Linked DNA regions of Homo sapiens. The protein of the gene in region 1 purifies or fractionates together with the protein of each later gene. This does not show direct contact. Each region holds a gene or a part of one and is shown in the gene's direction. Other genes may lie near its edges.

The links.
Region 2: the proteins of TLE3 (region 1) and MYH3 purify together in Homo sapiens (affinity purification with mass spectrometry; 2 studies listed by BioGRID and IntAct, with this or other methods). This does not show direct contact.
Region 3: the proteins of TLE3 (region 1) and RNF6 purify together in Homo sapiens (affinity purification with mass spectrometry; 2 studies listed by BioGRID, with this or other methods). This does not show direct contact.

Annotation. Positions count from the first base shown.
Region 1 is NC_000015.10:70,047,272-70,052,928, reverse strand, and holds the end of TLE3 (transducin-like enhancer protein 3), read left to right. Parts: intron 1-404; coding exon 405-555; intron 556-1,461; coding exon 1,462-1,538; intron 1,539-2,581; coding exon of another isoform or gene 2,582-2,644; exon of another isoform or gene 2,645-2,718; intron 2,719-2,724; coding exon 2,725-2,832; 3' UTR 2,833-5,139; downstream 5,140-5,657. UniProt on the Homo sapiens protein: Transcriptional corepressor that binds to a number of transcription factors. Inhibits the transcriptional activation mediated by CTNNB1 and TCF family members in Wnt signaling.
Region 2 is NC_000017.11:10,640,310-10,647,338, reverse strand, and holds part of MYH3 (myosin-3), read left to right. Parts: intron 1-58; coding exon 59-157; intron 158-1,306; coding exon 1,307-1,410; intron 1,411-1,493; coding exon 1,494-1,632; intron 1,633-2,636; coding exon 2,637-2,755; intron 2,756-2,838; coding exon 2,839-2,988; intron 2,989-4,342; coding exon 4,343-4,513; intron 4,514-4,615; coding exon 4,616-4,922; intron 4,923-5,028; coding exon 5,029-5,099; intron 5,100-5,966; coding exon 5,967-6,054; intron 6,055-6,136; coding exon 6,137-6,254; intron 6,255-6,652; coding exon 6,653-6,776; intron 6,777-6,869; coding exon 6,870-7,006; intron 7,007-7,029. UniProt on the Homo sapiens protein: Muscle contraction.
Region 3 is NC_000013.11:26,212,315-26,219,343, reverse strand, and holds the end of RNF6 (E3 ubiquitin-protein ligase RNF6), read left to right. Parts: intron 1-737; coding exon 738-833; intron 834-3,751; coding exon 3,752-5,520; 3' UTR 5,521-6,569; downstream 6,570-7,029. UniProt on the Homo sapiens protein: E3 ubiquitin-protein ligase mediating 'Lys-48'-linked polyubiquitination of LIMK1 and its subsequent targeting to the proteasome for degradation. Negatively regulates axonal outgrowth through regulation of the LIMK1 turnover.

The DNA of each region.
Region 1 (5,657 bases):
CTAGGTCTGATGTGGGCACCTGAAATGATCCCTCTAAAAGGCGTAGCCATAAACCCGACTCACAGAAAGCATTCAGTAAATGCCAGGGATTATTATTTCTTATTTGCATTCCTCACTTTAATATTTTAATCTTAAATTTTTAATATTTTAGTTTTTTTTTTTTAACTCACTTTTTTCTTAAGGAAAGATGAAAGTCTCAGAGACAGAGTAACTGAATGCAAAATGTCTGTGCTTTCTCACCTATAAAATGGGGATGGAAAATGACCTCCCATACTCCTGGGTTATTGGGTGGGTGGGGAGGGACCCTGAGCCTCAGAGGACCTGAGCAGCACCTTTGGGAGCCGCCCTCCTCTTGAGGGCAGAGAATGCTGAGCTCAGTCCATCTGCCCTCCCACCACCTGCAGATCTTCTCGCTGGGCTACTGCCCCACTGGGGAGTGGCTGGCTGTGGGCATGGAGAGCAGCAACGTGGAGGTGCTGCACCACACCAAGCCTGACAAGTACCAGCTGCACCTGCACGAGAGCTGCGTGCTCTCCCTCAAGTTCGCCTACTGCGGTGAGCCTTGGATGGGCCCAGGCCTGATGGAGTGGGGTGGGGAACCCAGGGCAGCCTGGCCCAACAGGACAGAAGAGGGGCCCAAAGCTTATAGAATAAGCTAGGCCCTGGAACCAGGCCTCCTGACCCCTGAGCTGGTGCCCCTTCAACACCCTTAAGTGATCTTGTTCCACATCCTTGTTTCTCGGATGCAGATGTCACCATGAGTTATTGAACTCTCAGGACACTAGGCCAGAGCCAGTTCTTGCAGGCTTGGGGCAAAGGAACAGGACAGTAGCAGTGCAGGCAGTTCCTCTCCATGGTTACAACCACTTGCTTTGGCATCTGAGAGCCTTGGATGGGAATGTCTGCTCCTCCACTGACAAGCTGTGCAGTCTTGAACATCTCACCCTCTCTGAACTCTAGTGGATTTTTCTCTCTGGTCGGGAATAGCATGGTGCTCATGGCTTTCAGGGAGCATAAGGGCTTTAACACTTGTAGAGCCCTGGCCGAGTTCCTGCTTGGAGGAAGGTCGCCCACTGACTGCTGTCTTCAGCCAGGTCTCCAGACTCCCAGGGCTTGGATATTTTCAGTATTTCCTGTTGCCTTCCAGTAGTAGAATTTAGAAAGGCCAGTCAACCTTAGTGGCTTTAACAAGAATCTTTTGAGGCAGCGTTATCACTGCAATGAACTTCAAATCCTACCTTTTCCCATCCTAGCCCCGCCCAGCCCTCCCCCTGGATTTCAGAGAAAGGCCTTCTCCAGGTGTCCGCATGTCCCATTTGCAAAATGCCTCTCGAAATTGGAGAGTTATACTAGTTAGCAGTTCTCACTGCTTTTCTATGGCAGCTGGCCATGTCTAGGGCAGGTCTTGCTTTAGAGGGCAGTGAGCTACAACCTGATCATGCCTTTGCCTCCCACCTGCAGGCAAGTGGTTCGTGAGCACTGGGAAAGATAACCTTCTCAACGCCTGGAGGACGCCTTATGGAGCCAGCATATTCCAGGTACTGCCCACCGTCTGAGTCCTCCTCTGGGTTCTACCCAGAGTTGAAACTTGGTGATGGTGATGGGAGTGAGGATAGCAGCAGGAAGAACAGGAGGAGCCTGGAGCCAGGATCAGACCTGCCCTGGTCCCCTCCCCACCCCTACCTGATAGGGGAGCAAGATTGGGTTCTCCCAAGGACCTGGGGACTTCAGCAGGACACACAATCTGCTACTGATGGCTTCTGACCCCCGAGGGCAAGGGCTTCTAAGCCGGGGCGCTTGTCGGATTTGGAGAGTGAGGAATAGCATAAGTGTTTTTGCTCTGGGCTGGATGCTGAGCACCTGCGGGAGGTGCGCTGGGCACCTGGGCACCCGGCAGCCTTGCCCAGAGCAGTGTTGCCTCCTCAAGTGAGTGAGTGTTTCCACCTGCATTCAGCACCAGCAGGGACATGGACAGGAAAGAGAGGAGGAAAGGAAGAGGCTTTTTATAATCTACCAGGATCTGGGGCCTGCCATACTGCACTGATTGGCACACACACGTGTGCACACACACACGTGCACTCTTTCCCATACACGATCAAACTCACACTCATTTACTCACGCACACTTGGTCTCCCCCACACACTTTCTTCCTCTCTCTCTCTTGCGCTTCCACACACACACTTGCATTCTCTCTCACTCCCTCAGCCAACATGCCGCTTTCTGGACCCAGGCTGAAATGTCTGGTGTGCAGCGTGTCAAACCTCATTGTTAGGGTCTCTAGTTACAGCACATGCTTCAAACATCAGGTGGCAATCCTTTTCCTAACTCATCAGGCTGTGGGCCTGAGCTGCTGACGCCAGCTCCTAGCTTGGAAATGCTTCTTCCTATTTGTAAACTCGGAGGAGAAGCTCTTGCTAAAGCGTCCTGTTCTGATCATTATGACTTACTGTAAAGATCACGTGGGAGACTGTTACTGAGCTTTTCCTTATGGAAAAGCAGGTGGGAGGGGAGCTCTACCTGAAAATGCTTCATGGGTGCTTTAAAGCCTCCCCCACCTCCTCTTCACCGCACTGTGCTCCAGGTCGGAGCATCAGAGAGGGGCAGAGGAGGGCAATTGTTGCCGAGAGAACCGAGATGGTGTTGAGCACTGGAAAATGAATTCCTGTCTTTTTTCTCCCTGCACCCCACGCCTTCCTGCTGCTTCTCCTCGTCTTCCTCCTCCAGTCTAAAGAATCCTCGTCTGTCTTGAGTTGTGACATTTCAGCGGATGACAAATACATTGTAACAGGCTCTGGTGACAAGAAGGCCACAGTTTATGAGGTCATCTACTAAACAAGAACTCCAGCAGGGCTGTCAAACTCTGGGAGAAACCGACTCGGCTCTGACAGGGAGACCCCCAGGCGAGGGGCCCCGAGGATGGCGGAGGATGGGCCGCAGGCAGCCGAGCGTTCAGGGCTGCGCTCCGGCCGGCTGAGAGGGCACGTGCCCCGTCACAGTCTGGACTCCTGGGCCTGGATTGATGTGTCTCACAGACTCGGAAGGGTTCTGCTCCTCCTCCTCCCCCTGAACAATGCTGGCAGTTGCTACAAATAGATTTATTGGAGGCTTATGGCTCCGGTTCCCCCACAGACCCGCTCATGAGTCTCTGTTTGTTCTTCCCTTTTCTTTTGCCCTGTCCCTCACCTTGGGTCGGGGGTGCTGGAGTGGACCACAATGTTGTGCTGGGGGATGGGGGGGTCTCTCTTTGCCGATTGTGCAGTGCACAAGATTTGTGAAAAATGTAAATAACAGACTCCTATTGCGGACTGATCAGTGGGAGAGGAGGCCCCTTCCCACCGGAAACTCTGAGTGTGTATTTCGCCTGCTGTATTTGTAATCCACTCGTGGTGGTGGCTTTTTTTTTTTTTTTTTTTTAAATAAACAGATGCTCTCACCTGGGAAGAGGAGACAGGGAGGGGAACCAATTGAAGAAAGAGGAGAAAAGTCTTAGAGTGTGGAAAAGGCAACCAGGTTGGCCGTAAGGTGCCTGCTGGAATGCGTGTGCCTCCACACGGGTCTGGGCATCCGGACTGATAACCAGCCGGCCAGACTGAGGGATGGAAGGCACTGAGATGGGGGCCCGTCCAGGCGGACACCCGCAGAAATGGAGCTTTCTGTGGTCTCTTGCACTCTGGCTGCCTCTTGCCCTCTCTGTGTCTCTCTTTCTTGGTCTCTCCCTCTCTCCTCCTCAGCCTGGTCTTTCTCTTTGGTGCACACTTAGTTATTGTTGTGAGCAATGGAAGTTCAAAGGAACTCCCTCTCCAGCTCTTCTGAATCTTGGGACACAGCCTAAAAAGGACAAAAAGTTAGAAGACAGCATAGCAACTCAGCTCAGGGAGCTACCAGAGAAAAATAGCAACTGATGTGGGTGCTTTTTTTTTTTTTTTAATTTGAATAAAAAGAATTAGAAGTGATGTCCTTTTATAAAATGCCTTCTCCCCCTTCCCGCCTACAGTCTCTTCCTCTCCCCTTAGAGGGGGGAAAGTGTATAAACCTACAGGGTTGTGAGTCTGAAAAGAGGATCCCCCTCACCCCCACCCTGGGCAGAGCAGTGGGGGTTGGGGGGTGGGAGAGGGGGACACAGATCCTGGCACACTGTGGATATTTCTTGCAGATTGCAGTCTCTTGTGGCCCAAACAGGTTAGGTAGACTATCGCCTCTGGCAGGTGCCACCTTTTGGTACCAACATGTTCTGAGGTGTTAGGATTTGGGTTGGGTTTTTTTTGTTTGTTTTTTTTTTCCTTTTGGTCTTTTTTTTTTTCTCCTTTTAAAGAAAAGCTAAAGGCCGCTGTGAGTCCTGGTGGCAGGCTCTCCATGGATGTAGCATATCGAAGATAATTTTTATACTGCATTTTTATGGATTATTTTGTAATGTGTGATTCCGTCTGCTGAGGAGGTGGGAGGGGCTCCAGGGAAAGCCACCCACCTTCAGTGAGGTTGCTCCCCAGCTGAGCGCACCGGGCATGGGATGTGGAGGCTGGCGACACACCCTGTGCCTCTCCAAGGCTGGGCGCGTGGGGCGTCCAGAGTCTCTCTGGGTCTCAGATGTCCATCTGCCACCTCTTGTTAAGGCTCTAGCCAGAAGGGAGGGTGAGGGTAGAAGAAAGTTATTCCCGAAGAAAAAAAGAATGAAAAGTCATTGTACTGAACTGTTTTTATATTTTTAAAAGTTACTATTTAAAGGTTGGTTTGATTGTTGCGTCTTAATTGCCTCTCCCCCCAGTTTGCCAGTCCCGCCCCCCGCCCCCCGGGAAAACAGCCAGGCCACTGTTGCTGTCACATTCTGGAGCCTGGGCCAGGGCCATTTCCCATCGATGTGAGCTCTTCTCATCTCACAGCATTCCCTGCGCTGCTTCCACCCCCTTCTCCCCTTCCAGATACCCAGCATCGCAGCAGGGATTTCACAATCCCATACTGTGTCGCCTCCCATCCAAGCGCCAGGGAGGGTGGGGGGTAGGAGCTAAGACTTCCTCTGGACAGATGGGCAGGGCAGAGTTCACTGAGGTGAAGGAAGACCACAGGTTAACACCAAAGTATTGTACAGCTGTCAATGCAAAACTTTTTTGGAAAAAAATTAAACGTAATGAACTTGAAGCGAAACTGCAAAGTGTCTGTGAACATCTGGACCTTGGAAACCTGCACAATTTTATTTTAAGCTTAACACGTTTAGGTGGGACGAGGAGATCTTCAATCTCTAGGTCACAAAGGTGTGTTTTTGGATGATACAGAAGGAAGCATTTGCAGAAGAGGCAGACCCAGAAATGCAGGTCATTGTCCCCAGGGAGGGAGTCGGGGGGCTGGGCGGGAAGAGGAGAATGCTGGTGCCCATTCCCGGGGCGGTCCCCAGGCTCTTGGATTTCATGCACCCATTAGCAAAAGCTCTCAGGGCACTGGAGATTAACATGGTTTCCAACTCCTTATTTTGTCAAAGTCATTCTCAGCACAAACAATTGCCTGCTGTCATTTCATACAAGAAAGGGAATCTCACATTTAAAAAAAAAAAGAGGAACGACAGTCTCAGCATAAAGCACAGTCTTTATGACTAGAAGGGACAACTGGCCTCTCTCCACACAGAGGGGTCATTTAGCTGGAGAGGGAGGTCCTCTCAGGCTTATGGA
Region 2 (7,029 bases), on another chromosome or scaffold:
TGGCGTCTCAGAGTTAACTGGGAACAGTTTGAAAGAGAGTCCTGTGTTTGTGTTCCAGATCTTCTGGAAAAATCAAGAGTCACTTTCCAGCTGAAGGCTGAAAGAAGCTACCACATCTTCTACCAGATTCTTTCTAACAAGAAGCCTGAGCTCATAGGTGAGGAAGTCACCAGTGGGGCTGGTCTTTTAGGTAGTTTGACTCTGATCACTAGACCAAGGAGAGTTGTATCTACGTAGAGTGACTCTACAGTCAACAGGGAAAGTTTATTTTATTTTATTTATTTATTTTGAGATAGGGTCTCACTCTGATGCCCAGGCTGGGGTGCAGTGGCACAAGCACAGCTCACTTGTAGTCTTGACCTTTCTGGGTTCAAGTAATCCTCCAGCCCCAGCCTCCCGAGTGGCTGCGACTACAGGTGCATGCCCCCACACCAGGCTACCTTTTGTGTTTTTTGTAGAGATGAGGTTTCACCATGTTGCCCAGGTTGGTCTTGAACTCCTGGGCTCAAGCAATTTGCCCGACTCGGCCTCCCACAGTGCTGGGATTATAGGTGTGAGCCACTGCACTTTGCCAGGAAAAGCTTATTTTAGAAATGGGATGTGGCTATCTGGGCAGTGACATGCCAATTTGAAAACCTAATCAAATGGAGGGCAACAAGATTAGACCACTCCTGACCAGCTCTGGTTTATAAAAACCTTCTGAGCAACTGAACACCTAACTGTCCTTTGGCGCCCCCTTGTGTTCTGGCACAGAAACAACCTATGGCCAAATGCGACGCCAAAGCAAACAGAATAATCAAGCCCACGGAGGCACTGCACACTGCCCCTTGTCTGCCCCTCACAGAGGTCTCCATGCACACTGCTTCTTTGCTCTTTGGCTGTATTTGCTCAGCCTTCTGGTCTCCAGCTTGGAAACAGGCTGCTGCTTTTCAACAGATTTTAGAAAAGGCTATGATTATACCAAACCACCTGGGTTGGCTCTCGTCCTGACCCGCACTCAGCCAGTTTTCCCTATTAACTTCTCCCAGCCGACACTGATATGCACCATTAGCGTGCAAGGCAAGGGAATTTAAAGGTTCTCTCTAGGGTCCTTCATCTCCATTGTGTGGGAGACTGAAAAGTCTTCCCTGGACTATATTTTCCATGACAGCCTGAGTATTGTGGAACTGTCTAAAAGATTTTTAATTCTAAGTTCAATTTAGGATCCAGCGGTAAAAGTTCCAGCCCAGGGTGCAGGAGCTCAAGTCCACTGGGTGGGTTTTTTCTTTGCATCTGCATAACCTCCTGGAACTATTTGTCATTTCAGAGCTGCTGCTTATTACGACCAACCCTTACGACTACCCGTTCATTAGCCAGGGGGAGATCCTGGTGGCCAGCATAGATGATGCAGAGGAGCTGCTGGCTACAGACGTAAGTGGAACCAACAGAAGGGGTGGGTGTTCCTCCTCCATCACTGGGGCCAACTGACTGACGTGCTGCCCTTTCCATGCCAGAGCGCCATTGACATCCTGGGCTTCACCCCAGAAGAGAAATCTGGGCTCTACAAGCTGACGGGAGCCGTGATGCACTACGGGAACATGAAGTTCAAGCAGAAGCAGCGAGAGGAGCAGGCCGAGCCGGATGGCACAGAAGGTACAAAATCAGTGTGACAGCAAACCAGAGCGGGTGGCTGATCTGCTGAGGTCACTTGGTACTGCTTTTGAAAGCAATTAATCCAGCCAGGCACAGTGGCTCACACCTGTAATCCCAGCACTTTGGGAGGCTGAGGGGGCCAGATCACCTGAGGTCAGGAGTTCGAGACCAGCATGGCCAACATGGTGAAACCCCATCTCTACTAAAAAAAATTAGCTGGGCATGGTGGAGCATGCCTATAATCCCAGCTACTCAGGAGGCTGAGGCACGAGAGTCAGACAGAGTTTTGCTCTGTCATCCAGGCTAGAGTGCAGTGGCATGATCTCAGCTCACTGCAACCTCTGCTGCCTGGGTTCAAGTGATTCTCCTGCCTCAGCCTCCCGAGTAGCTGGGATTACAGGCACACACCACCGCGCCTGGCTAACTTTTTTGTATTTTTAGTAGAAACGGGGTTTCACCATGTTGGCCAGGCTCAAACTCCTGACCTCAAATGATTCGCCTGCCTTGGCATCCCAAAGTGCTGTGATTACGGGTGTGAGCCACTGTGCCCTGCCGGCATGAGAGTTTCTTGAACCCAGGAGGCAGAGGTTGCAGTGCACTGAGATCGTGCCACTGCACTCCAGCCTGGGCAACACAGTAAGACTGTCTCAAAAAAAAAAAAATGGATGGAAGCGATTAATCCTTCCATCTGGAGAAGTGAATGACCCTTTCTGGGCCTCCGATGCCCATAGCTATTGTTACCACTCGCTTTTCCTGAATCACTCGAATAGTCTTGTTTCAGATGCAGTGAGGGATGACCAGGGCTTTCTGAGACCCAGCCCTGGCTTTTCATAAAGTCCATTATATTCTCTGAGTGACTTAGCTTCCATTGGCCATGTATATGCAGTTTAGCCACAGGGAATGCACAATGTACCAAGATGAACTTAACCAACCTTTGAAACTTCTGGATGATTTTCAAAGCAGCTCTTCTACTTTTCTAAGCACTGTCCTTGTTTTCTTGCCAGTGGCTGACAAAACAGCCTATCTGATGGGCCTGAACTCTTCGGACCTCCTAAAAGCTTTGTGCTTTCCTAGAGTGAAAGTTGGGAATGAGTACGTTACCAAAGGTCAAACTGTGGATCAGGTAACAGCTTCAAGGCCGGGAAAGGGTGCAGGACCCTGCTGGCCACTTCCTTCATATCCAGTAGCTGATCTTTCCCCTGATAGGTTCACCATGCTGTGAATGCTCTTTCAAAATCAGTTTATGAAAAGTTGTTCTTGTGGATGGTCACTCGCATTAACCAGCAACTGGATACGAAGCTTCCAAGACAACACTTCATTGGTGTTTTGGACATTGCAGGCTTTGAAATCTTTGAGGTTTGTGTTACTTATATTCATATTTTCATATGGCTTCATATGAGGGAAATTGGTTTCATGATCCTAAAGGGAAGATAGCAAGATGGCGGCTGTCTTAGTTTCCTGTAAGAAACTAGATGGAGAGTGGATGGAATAGAGGAGCGGTACTTATTGGAAGGGTTTGTATTAGGGTTTTTTGTTTGTTTTTTTTTTTTGAGACTGAGTTTCACCCTGTCACTCAGGCCAGAATGCAGTGGCGCCATCTCGGCTCACTGCAACCTCTTCCTGAGTTCAAGTGAACCTCCTGCCTCAGCCTCCTGAATAGCTGGGATTACAGGCGTGTGCCACCATGCCTGGCTAATTTTTGTATTTTTAGTAGAGATGGGGTTTCACCATGTTGGCTAGGCTGGTCTCGAACTCCTGACCTCAAGTGATCCATCCGCCTCGGCCTCCGAAAGTGTTGGGATTACAGGCATGAGCCACCGCACCTGGCTGGGTTTGTATTATTTTAAAAGAGGAGAAGATGTCTATCAAGTGGAATTTTAAAGGACATTTTCAAATGGATAAAAGAAAAAAAATTAAATGCAATCACTGATTTAGGGACTGCCATCAAATAGATACAGAGAATTTGATAAGTTAATCACGCACTATTTTCTATAAATATCCCACTGGTTCTGTGTTAGACCGTGCATAGCCGCGGCTGGGCATGGTGCCTCATGCCTGTAATCCCAGCACTTTGGGAGGCTGAGGCAGGCAGATCGCAAGGTCAAGAGATCAAGACCATCCTGGCCAACATGGTGAAACCCCGTCTCTACTAAAAATACAAAAATTAGATGGGTGTGGTGGCGTGCGCCTGTAGTTCCAGCCACTCTGGAGGCTGAGGCAGGAGAATCATTTGAACCTGGGAGGCGGAGGTTGCAGTGAGCCGAGATGGTGCCATTGCACTCCAGCCTGGTGACAGAGCAAGACTCCGTCTCAAAAAAAAAAGAAAAAAAAAAGTGCATAGCCACTCATCAAAGTGTATATTTAGGTTTCCCAGGTACAAGACATACAGGTGAAAAAAACAGATGAGCTTGTAGTCTAGTAGAGAAGAAATAGAAGTCTATATGGCACATTGAAGAGTAACTACAAAATAAAGTACACAAGAGATGCCCAGACCTTGGGAACTCAGGAAAGGGAGAAACACCTTCTAATTGGAAGTTTACAGAAGACGCCAAGGAGGAGATGCGGTCTGAGGCAGGCCTTGAAGATTGTGATTGTATTTGAAAGCATTAATGTGTTTGACAGGAACCTGGGGCAATGAGGAGGAATGTTGACAGTCTTTGATTCTGAAAGAAGTCTAACTTTTCACATGAATGTTGTATTTTTTTATTAGTATAACAGCCTGGAGCAGCTGTGCATCAACTTCACCAATGAGAAACTGCAACAGTTTTTCAACCACCACATGTTCGTGCTGGAGCAGGAGGAGTACAAGAAGGAAGGCATCGAGTGGACGTTCATTGACTTCGGGATGGACCTGGCTGCCTGCATCGAGCTCATCGAGAAGGTATCCAGTTCCATCCCCACCGTAAGCTCTTCTCATAGACTCTTCTGCTCATTACTGCAGCTCATATTTACCTCTCTGCACTTTGCCTTGCCTTCAATCCAGCCTATGGGCATCTTCTCCATCCTGGAAGAGGAGTGCATGTTCCCCAAGGCAACAGACACCTCCTTCAAGAACAAGCTGTATGACCAGCATCTTGGAAAGTCCAACAACTTCCAGAAGCCCAAGGTGGTCAAAGGCAGGGCCGAGGCTCACTTCTCACTGATCCACTATGCGGGCACCGTGGACTACAGTGTCTCAGGTTGGCTGGAGAAGAACAAGGACCCTCTGAACGAGACTGTGGTTGGGCTGTACCAGAAGTCTTCCAACAGGCTCCTGGCACACCTCTATGCCACGTTTGCCACGGCGGATGGTAAGAGGAGTGCTTTGTGTCCATGTGATTTCCCTCCATTTGTTCCACAGTAACAAAAAACCTTTTAGATTCACCTACAGCACGTGCCCTCCCTTATTGCTTTCAGCTGACAGTGGAAAGAAGAAAGTTGCCAAGAAGAAGGGTTCTTCCTTCCAAACTGTCTCTGCCCTTTTCAGGGTAAGAAAAATACAAGTTTATTTGCTTATAATTGATTTAAGTGACATCTAAATGAGCAATGCTGAGATTCTAAGCTTGATTTATTTGAGAGTAGTAGTGTTGTCTTAATCTGATTACTGTCACTGAGGTGAAGTGACAGATGATAAAATATAATAAATACGGTCTAACCAATGTGCGATGAGAGTATCACTATTATCTTATACCAAAGATAGCTGAGTTGGCTTGTCCGAGTTTCCAGCATAAACTCTCCAATTTTCCTAAAGGACACCAGCAATAGACCTCACGCTCCCAGTGGATCCATCACCTGAGTTGATTTTAGAAAGCATTTTGTACTTGGCGAGCCTCTGGCTCACTGGGAGACAAAAGACAATTGTATCAGTTACTAGCCTACACCTCCAGCCATAGGACCATTGAAAGCCTGAGTTAGGCCGGGCACAGTGGCTCACTCCTGTAATCCCAGCACTTTGGGAGGCCGAGGTGGGCAGATCACAAGGTCAGAAGATCGAGACCATCCTGGCTAACACAGTAAAACCCCGTCTCCATTAAACATATGAAAAATTAGCCAGGTGTGGTGGCATATGCCTGTAGTCCCAGCTACTCAGGAGGCTGAGGCAGGAGAATTGCTTGAACCTAGGAGGAGGAGGTTGCAGTGAGCCAAGATTGAGCCACTGCATTCCAGCATGGGTGACAGAGCGAGACTCCGTCTCAAAAAAAAAAAAAAAAAAAAAAAAGACAGAGTTAAATCATTTCACTATACTTTAGAACTTATGATAAATTTTAAACATAGATCTTATTTCATTACAATGGATCTCTGTCTTCATAAAAACCTACAGTAGGATGGCAAATGTCATTTTTTTTTTCTCTTAGGAAAACCTGAACAAGCTGATGTCAAATTTAAGAACTACTCACCCTCATTTTGTGCGTTGTATAATTCCCAATGAAACCAAAACTCCAGGTGAGACACCTGCTGGCTCGCTAGGTGGTGCTCAGTTTTTAAGAAATTCTGTGTAAGGCTGATATCTCGCTTCTGTTCCCAGGGGCTATGGAACACAGCCTTGTTCTGCACCAGCTGCGGTGTAACGGTGTCCTGGAGGGCATCCGCATCTGCAGGAAAGGGTTCCCAAACAGGATTCTCTATGGCGATTTTAAACAAAGGTGTGTAATAAACATGTTCTATATGCTTGGGGATGAGATGTACGAACACTGGAATTTGAGAGGGAGAAAGATTCGTATGAAAAGACCTATTTCGAAAGAACAGATATGGACCTCCATGTAAACTGAACAATCTACCATTTGGCCAAGTTATATATATTTGTTTCTTCCATGTTTTTCTCTGGAATTTATCTGATATACAAAATGGCAGGAAAAGCTCTGACTGAAGAGTCAAGAGATCTAGATTCTAGACTGCTCTCTAGCAATGTGACTCCGAGCTAGTTCCCTCATCTCCTGGGACCTTGGCCTTCTGCCTATAGGAAGAGAGGCCTGAACTACATGTTCTCCAAGGTTTGTGTCTTTGCCAACAGTCTGTGATGATTTCCATGTCTACAATGCAGATACCGAGTGCTGAATGCCAGTGCAATCCCTGAGGGACAATTCATTGACAGCAAGAAAGCCTGTGAAAAGCTTCTGGCATCCATTGATATTGACCACACTCAGTACAAATTTGGACATACCAAGGTAATGCATCAGTTCTGACAGATGCTGGCCTTTTCGTCCTCTTGACACAGCTTCTCTAGGAAACTGACTCATGTCACCCTTCTGCCCCATAAGGTGTTCTTCAAGGCTGGCTTGCTGGGAACCCTGGAAGAGATGCGGGATGACCGCCTGGCCAAACTAATCACCCGGACACAAGCTGTGTGCAGAGGGTTCCTCATGCGTGTGGAATTCCAGAAGATGGTGCAGAGGAGGTCCAGCAGGGTCTTTGTTCAGA
Region 3 (7,029 bases), on another chromosome or scaffold:
TATTGTTTTTGTGAGTTTAAGAACTTTTTAGTATAATAAAGTAGAAAATCACTGGCTTCTGTATTTTATAAGGTGAAAATAGGGGACATGGAGCACTATTATACAAATGCCAAACTAAGAAACAGGTTAATGTACATAATGGTGTTAAGTATTTACATATATGGTCCTATTTGTAATTTTTATACAAATAAAATATGACTTAAAACCCAATTTGAACTCATTTGGGGTATTATAATTTATTTATTCAGCTGAATTAATAGCTCCCCCCAAAGCCCAATGTGTTCCATAAAGTTTTTACAAATGAACTAATGGAAATTTGTATGTTTATATATTGTGTGTTTGTATATTGATGACCCATATAATGAAGTATTTGGGATAAAATTCAAGTAAATATTTGAAGTTTTCTCTATAAATGCTCCCTTAATTTCTTTTTAACTGACAAAAATCCACAGTTATAGCTTATAGATTCCTAAGTGTATCAACTGGCAGCACTTTACCAACTATTCAAATTAAATCTTATTTTAATAATTTTTAATAAAAGATTAATAAATGAAGCACAACCGAATTGATGCACATTTGTACCAGTTGAATATTTTTAACTGTCTTCAATTTACAGAACATATGAAAGTAATAAGACATTTGTCTTCTATAGGTTACTAAAGATTAGTCTTACCCTTCATGAGGTCTCATAAAACTTAATTCAGAATTCTTAAATGAGCAGTTTTTCATTGTTTTAGGAGAAATAACATCAGAAGAACTGCAACAGCGGTTAGATGGCGTCAAGGAACAACTAGCATCTCAGCCTGACTTGAGAGATGGAACGAATTACAGAGGTACTATGGAGTCCTTTCCATAAGGAACAGGCTTGATTGGAGCACTTGCAGAAATGAAATTCTTAGACCTTGTATAGTATGTTTGTCTTCAATTTTTTCCAGTTTTAATGTGATACTCATTCAGATAATATATATATGAGTAGTAAAGCAGTATGGTTAAGCAGTATAGGACAGAGGAATGAATGCAAAGATGTCTTAAACACACAGATTGCCTTCAGAGAGCTTTATGTAATAATATACAATTAAGTTAATTCCCAGCATGCTTCTTTTTAATCTTGGAATGTACACATTACTTTTTCTAAAGTGATATTACTTAGCTTCTAAAAATTTATATACAGAACCGTGTAGAAAGACTGAGTTAGGAAACCTGTTTTTGTTTCTTTGTTCTGTTTGATGGTTTACATATAAAAAGTTCTTATAAGGAAAGTACTATAAAAGAACTTCAAACTAAATGAAGTATGTAGAGTTAAAAGGAAAAGCCACTTTTGTGTTCCTCTTAACCAGTTCTACTTCCCTCCTCAGAGGTATTTATTAGTAGTTTCACATATTATATCAAAATCATTGTATTAGTTACCATGAAGTCTATGTAAAAACCCCAAAATGCAATGGCTCAATAAGCTAGAAGTTTCTTACTTACGTTAACAGTCCAGGGAAGGAAATCCTCTTGGAACCCACTCAGCTAACAGAATGATTCTACAACTGTGCTGTTCAGTACAGTAGCTGCTAGCCACATGTGACTATTTAAATGGAAATTAATTAAAATCAAATTAAATTTAAAATTTAGCTCATTCATACTAGCCACATTCAGGTGCTTAATAGTCACATTTGGCTAGTGGCTTCTGTATTGGACAGCACAAATACAGAACATACTCATTACTTCAGAAAGATTTATGGGGCATCACTGCTCCAGGGTACCATTTGTATGATCAAGGTAAGTCGCAACCATATCTAGGTTCTAGCTGGTAGGAAGGAGGTCCACGCACTAGCGTGAGAGTAGGATGTATCGCTTACTCTCCCATTCCATTCATGAGAACTTAGTCTCATGGTCACACCTAACTGCCAGGCTGTCCACGAGCCAATTTCCGATGCTTTTACAATGGAAGAAGAGTAGGGTAGCTTTGAGTAGGTACTTGGCAAACTCTTTCACATGCACCATCATCACTACACTTAATCAAATGTTAATCAAAGAAGGAAGTAGCATTTAAAATAATTCATGTTCACCTGCCTTTTACTCATTCTTTTTCCAAACAAATGGGAAGTGGACATTAACACATTTTATTATTTGTGTTTAGATATGTAAGTTGTACTATATAGATGCAATAATTAATACTGATCTTTTGAATATGTTTCAGTGGAAAATGTACTCATCAAATATAAAATAGCTCATCATCTCTGGAATATGGCTCAGTTGCTGTTTATTTTATTGGCATCAACAGCTGATTAATAGCTTCAACTTCAGCATTTAAAAAAGTCTTACGAGAGAGATTGCAGGAATGAAATGAAATCAGAATGATGTCATATAATAGCTATTTTATTTATTTGTTTATTTATTTTTTGAGACAGAGTCCTGTTCTGTCACCCAGGCTGTAGTACAGTGGCACAATCTTGGCTCACTGCAACCTCTGCCTCCCGGGTTCAAGCAATTCTCCTGCCTCAGCCTCCTGAGTAGCTGGGATTACAGGCGCACGCCACCATGCCTGGCTAATTTCTTTGTATTTTTAGGAGAGACAGGTTTTTACCATGTCAGTCAGGCTGGTCTCGAACTCCTGACTTCATGATCTGCCTGCCTTGGCCTCCCAAAGTGCTGGGATTACAGGTGTGAGCCACCGCGCCCGGCCTATAATAGCTATTTTTGAGTAGAACAAACTTTAAAGTTGAAGTTTGTGTAGTTAATGTGTTGATGCTTTTTATTAAGTTTTGTACTTTATATAATATCTACTGGTTATAAATGGAAAATTTAAGCTTGGCACAGTGGCAGTATCTTAGTCAAAAAAGTTTATGGGTGACACATTTCTAAATTGATTAATTGAGCAATATTAATTGAAAGTCTGATTTATACTAGATACTGCTGTAGAGGCTGGAGATGTAACAGTGACTAAAACTACAAAAATCTTTGTTTTCCTGGAGCTTACGTTCTAAATGAATAGAAAATGTATTTTATTATGTATAACAGCTAACATTTATGGGGTGGCTTTTTATGTGCCAGATATTATGCTAATTATGTTATATATAGCGTCTTATTTTATCCTCAGGATAACCCTATGAGATTGATTCTATTATTAACTCCAGTTTATAGACAAGGATCAGCCATAGAGACCTTAAGTAACTTGCCTGGTTTCTCAGCTTCACACAAAGACAAATACAGTAATGTGGTTTTAATGTTATATTCAGAAACTCACATTTCTTGATGTGTACATTTTTGGCAGCACCTGAGAAATAGGAAAAATTTCTAAGATTACAGAAATACCTAGTTGCAAAAATGACTGAGTTGGCTTTTCCAGAAAGATTCCACAAATACAGGACAAATTTTACATAAAGTTTGTCTTTGTATTTTATTGATATTACTATATTGATAAAGCAATTTAAATGTAAACTTTTGGTAGTGGACATGTTTCTCATTTGCCTTAGTATTTTGCTAGTAATGGGCAGATAGAAAGTAAGAATGAGGATTTCTCCATAGCGTTGCATAAATAGTATTTAAAGCTTTGTAACTATGTAAATAGTAATTTAATTTTTATAATATGCTTATAGTAGATATACTTTTCTTTTAGAAAGTTGTCTTTTTGCCATCTTTCATTCATTAAAATCCACAGATGTTCTTTAATTTATTACAAACTTTGTTTTTCTTACAAGTTTTCAATAAAGCTGTAAGGTGTGTCTTAGGAATTGATCTTAAGTTGATTTGCTTTGCTTTCTAGACTCAGAAGTCCCTAGAGAAAGTTCACATGAAGATTCTCTTCTAGAATGGTTGAACACCTTTCGGCGCACAGGAAATGCAACTCGAAGTGGACAAAATGGGAACCAAACTTGGAGAGCTGTGAGTCGAACAAACCCGAACAATGGAGAGTTTCGGTTTAGTTTGGAAATCCACGTAAATCATGAAAATAGAGGATTTGAAATTCATGGAGAAGATTATACAGACATTCCACTTTCAGATAGTAACAGAGATCATACTGCAAATAGGCAACAAAGGTCAACTAGTCCTGTGGCTAGGCGAACAAGAAGCCAAACCTCAGTGAATTTCAATGGTAGTAGTTCCAACATTCCAAGGACTAGGCTTGCTTCAAGGGGGCAAAATCCAGCTGAAGGATCTTTCTCAACATTGGGAAGGTTAAGAAATGGAATTGGGGGAGCAGCTGGCATTCCTCGAGCTAACGCTTCACGCACTAATTTCAGTAGTCACACAAACCAATCAGGTGGTAGTGAACTCAGGCAAAGGGAGGGGCAACGGTTTGGAGCAGCACATGTTTGGGAAAATGGGGCTAGAAGTAATGTTACAGTGAGGAATACAAACCAAAGATTAGAGCCAATAAGATTACGATCTACTTCCAATAGTCGAAGCCGTTCACCAATTCAGAGACAGAGTGGCACTGTTTATCATAATTCCCAAAGGGAAAGTAGACCAGTACAGCAAACCACTAGAAGATCTGTTAGGAGGAGAGGTAGAACTCGAGTCTTTTTAGAGCAAGATAGAGAACGAGAACGCAGAGGTACTGCATATACCCCATTCTCTAATTCAAGGCTTGTGTCAAGAATAACAGTAGAAGAAGGAGAAGAATCCAGCAGATCCTCAACTGCTGTACGACGACATCCAACAATCACACTGGACCTTCAAGTGAGAAGGATCCGTCCTGGAGAAAATAGAGATCGGGATAGTATTGCAAATAGAACTCGATCCAGAGTAGGGCTAGCAGAAAATACAGTCACTATTGAAAGCAATAGTGGGGGCTTTCGCCGAACCATTTCTCGTTTAGAGCGGTCAGGTATTCGAACCTATGTTAGTACCATAACAGTTCCTCTTCGTAGGATTTCTGAGAATGAGCTTGTTGAGCCATCATCAGTGGCTCTTCGGTCAATTTTAAGGCAGATCATGACTGGGTTTGGAGAACTGAGTTCTCTAATGGAGGCCGATTCTGAGTCAGAACTTCAAAGAAATGGCCAGCATTTACCAGACATGCACTCAGAACTGAGTAACTTAGGTACAGATAACAACAGGAGCCAGCACAGGGAAGGTTCCTCTCAAGACAGGCAGGCCCAAGGAGACAGCACTGAAATGCATGGTGAAAACGAGACCACCCAGCCTCATACTCGAAACAGTGACAGTAGGGGTGGCAGGCAGTTGCGAAATCCAAACAATTTAGTTGAAACTGGAACACTACCCATTCTTCGCCTTGCTCACTTTTTTTTACTAAATGAAAGTGATGATGATGATCGAATACGTGGTTTAACCAAAGAGCAGATTGACAATCTTTCCACCAGGCACTATGAGCATAACAGTATTGATAGTGAACTAGGTAAAATCTGTAGTGTTTGTATTAGTGACTATGTAACTGGAAACAAGCTCAGGCAATTACCTTGCATGCATGAATTTCACATTCATTGTATTGACCGATGGCTCTCAGAGAATTGCACTTGTCCGATCTGTCGGCAGCCTGTTTTAGGGTCTAACATAGCAAACAATGGGTAAGGTGATGGGATCTACTCAAATACTGTTTTTTAGTAGAACTGAATGTTCAAGCATTGTTTTGCTGAGTTATTTGTGATTAGCTAACCAGGATGAAAAATAACAGATTATATATAGTTTGAACTATTTTTCGTGTGCTTTTTTAAACTTGTTAAAAAGAAATTTATATAAAATTTAAAATACAAATGTTAAATTATCCAGAAATACAGAATAGTTAATATTGCTAGAACCAAATAACCTCTAAAATGTTTTTATTTTGGTAATTTTGTCATGCTAAGCACTTTTGTATCTGCACAATTCAGTAGGTTAAGAATCAATCTTCTTTTTCTTAATAGTACAGCAGACTTTAGCTTCAAGTTTCATAGGCTTAGTACTTATATCTAGACATTTGTGTCTAAATAAGCTTTTCATTAACTTTTTATTTTAAGGACAGTATCTTTTCATGAAAGAGTATTTGGCTGAATGTTTGCTATATATATGTTACTTGAAATGTTAAATTTAATATGCAGCATACCATAGGTGTATATATAGGTATATAATTTTAAGGTTAAAATATTCAGTCTACAAGTTTGGTTCTTATTTAAGCTTTTGGGCTAATACTGCATATGGCACAATGTTTAATATTGGCAAGTTCATCTCAGAGAAAGGGGATTCAGATATAATTTTAAAGTAGAGATAATTTACTGAAGCGTCTCTGACAATCTAACTTATTAGACAGCAAGCAATATATAATACTGAAAAAGTATTCAGAAATGGAAAATTTACATCATATAGGTTATTTAACTTGTGTTCAGCCTTTTTGTAACTTTTTTGAAAGTGCAAACAATTCTTTGGATTATTAAATAAGGTATACAGTATGCATGGTTTCTCAAATTTAGTTTTAAAATCTAAAAGTCTATAAAGAATCAGATGCATAGGCAATATGTTAAGTTCACTTGGAGGCTAAAAATCTCCAGTGAAAACAAAACGAAAACCTTTAAGAGAATGTAGAGTTTATATAAACACAAAGTATGCATTGAAGATCTGTTTCTACCAATAAACATTAAAACAAAGACTGTATGTGAACTATGTTTTTCTGTTGTTCCACTGTGGTTTATTCACCCTCCACTAATATTTCATACTAGATGCCAGGCAGTGTTATGGGATAGAGTATTTCCCAGACGACAGACAAAAGTCCCTGGCTTCATGGAAAAGACATATTTGCTCTTAGAAACTGAATATCAATTGATAAAGTGAATTATTATTCTTACTTTCATATTTGCTTATTAATATATGACAGGATTTTCTTGTGGTGATACTGTTTGGGCAAAATCACAAGAACAGTACTTAGGCCAGATTCTGTGAGATTTAGAAATATCTCCACATTTAATTTTCCTTTCTGACTGGTGACTATGTTCAATTCATTAGGTTAGATGCATGCCCAGGAATGTTAAGGAGTGCATTTACATGGAGTAAAAGGTTTTCATAAAAGTTGTGACTTTGTTTGGAGTAAATTATTTATGTAGGTCAGTT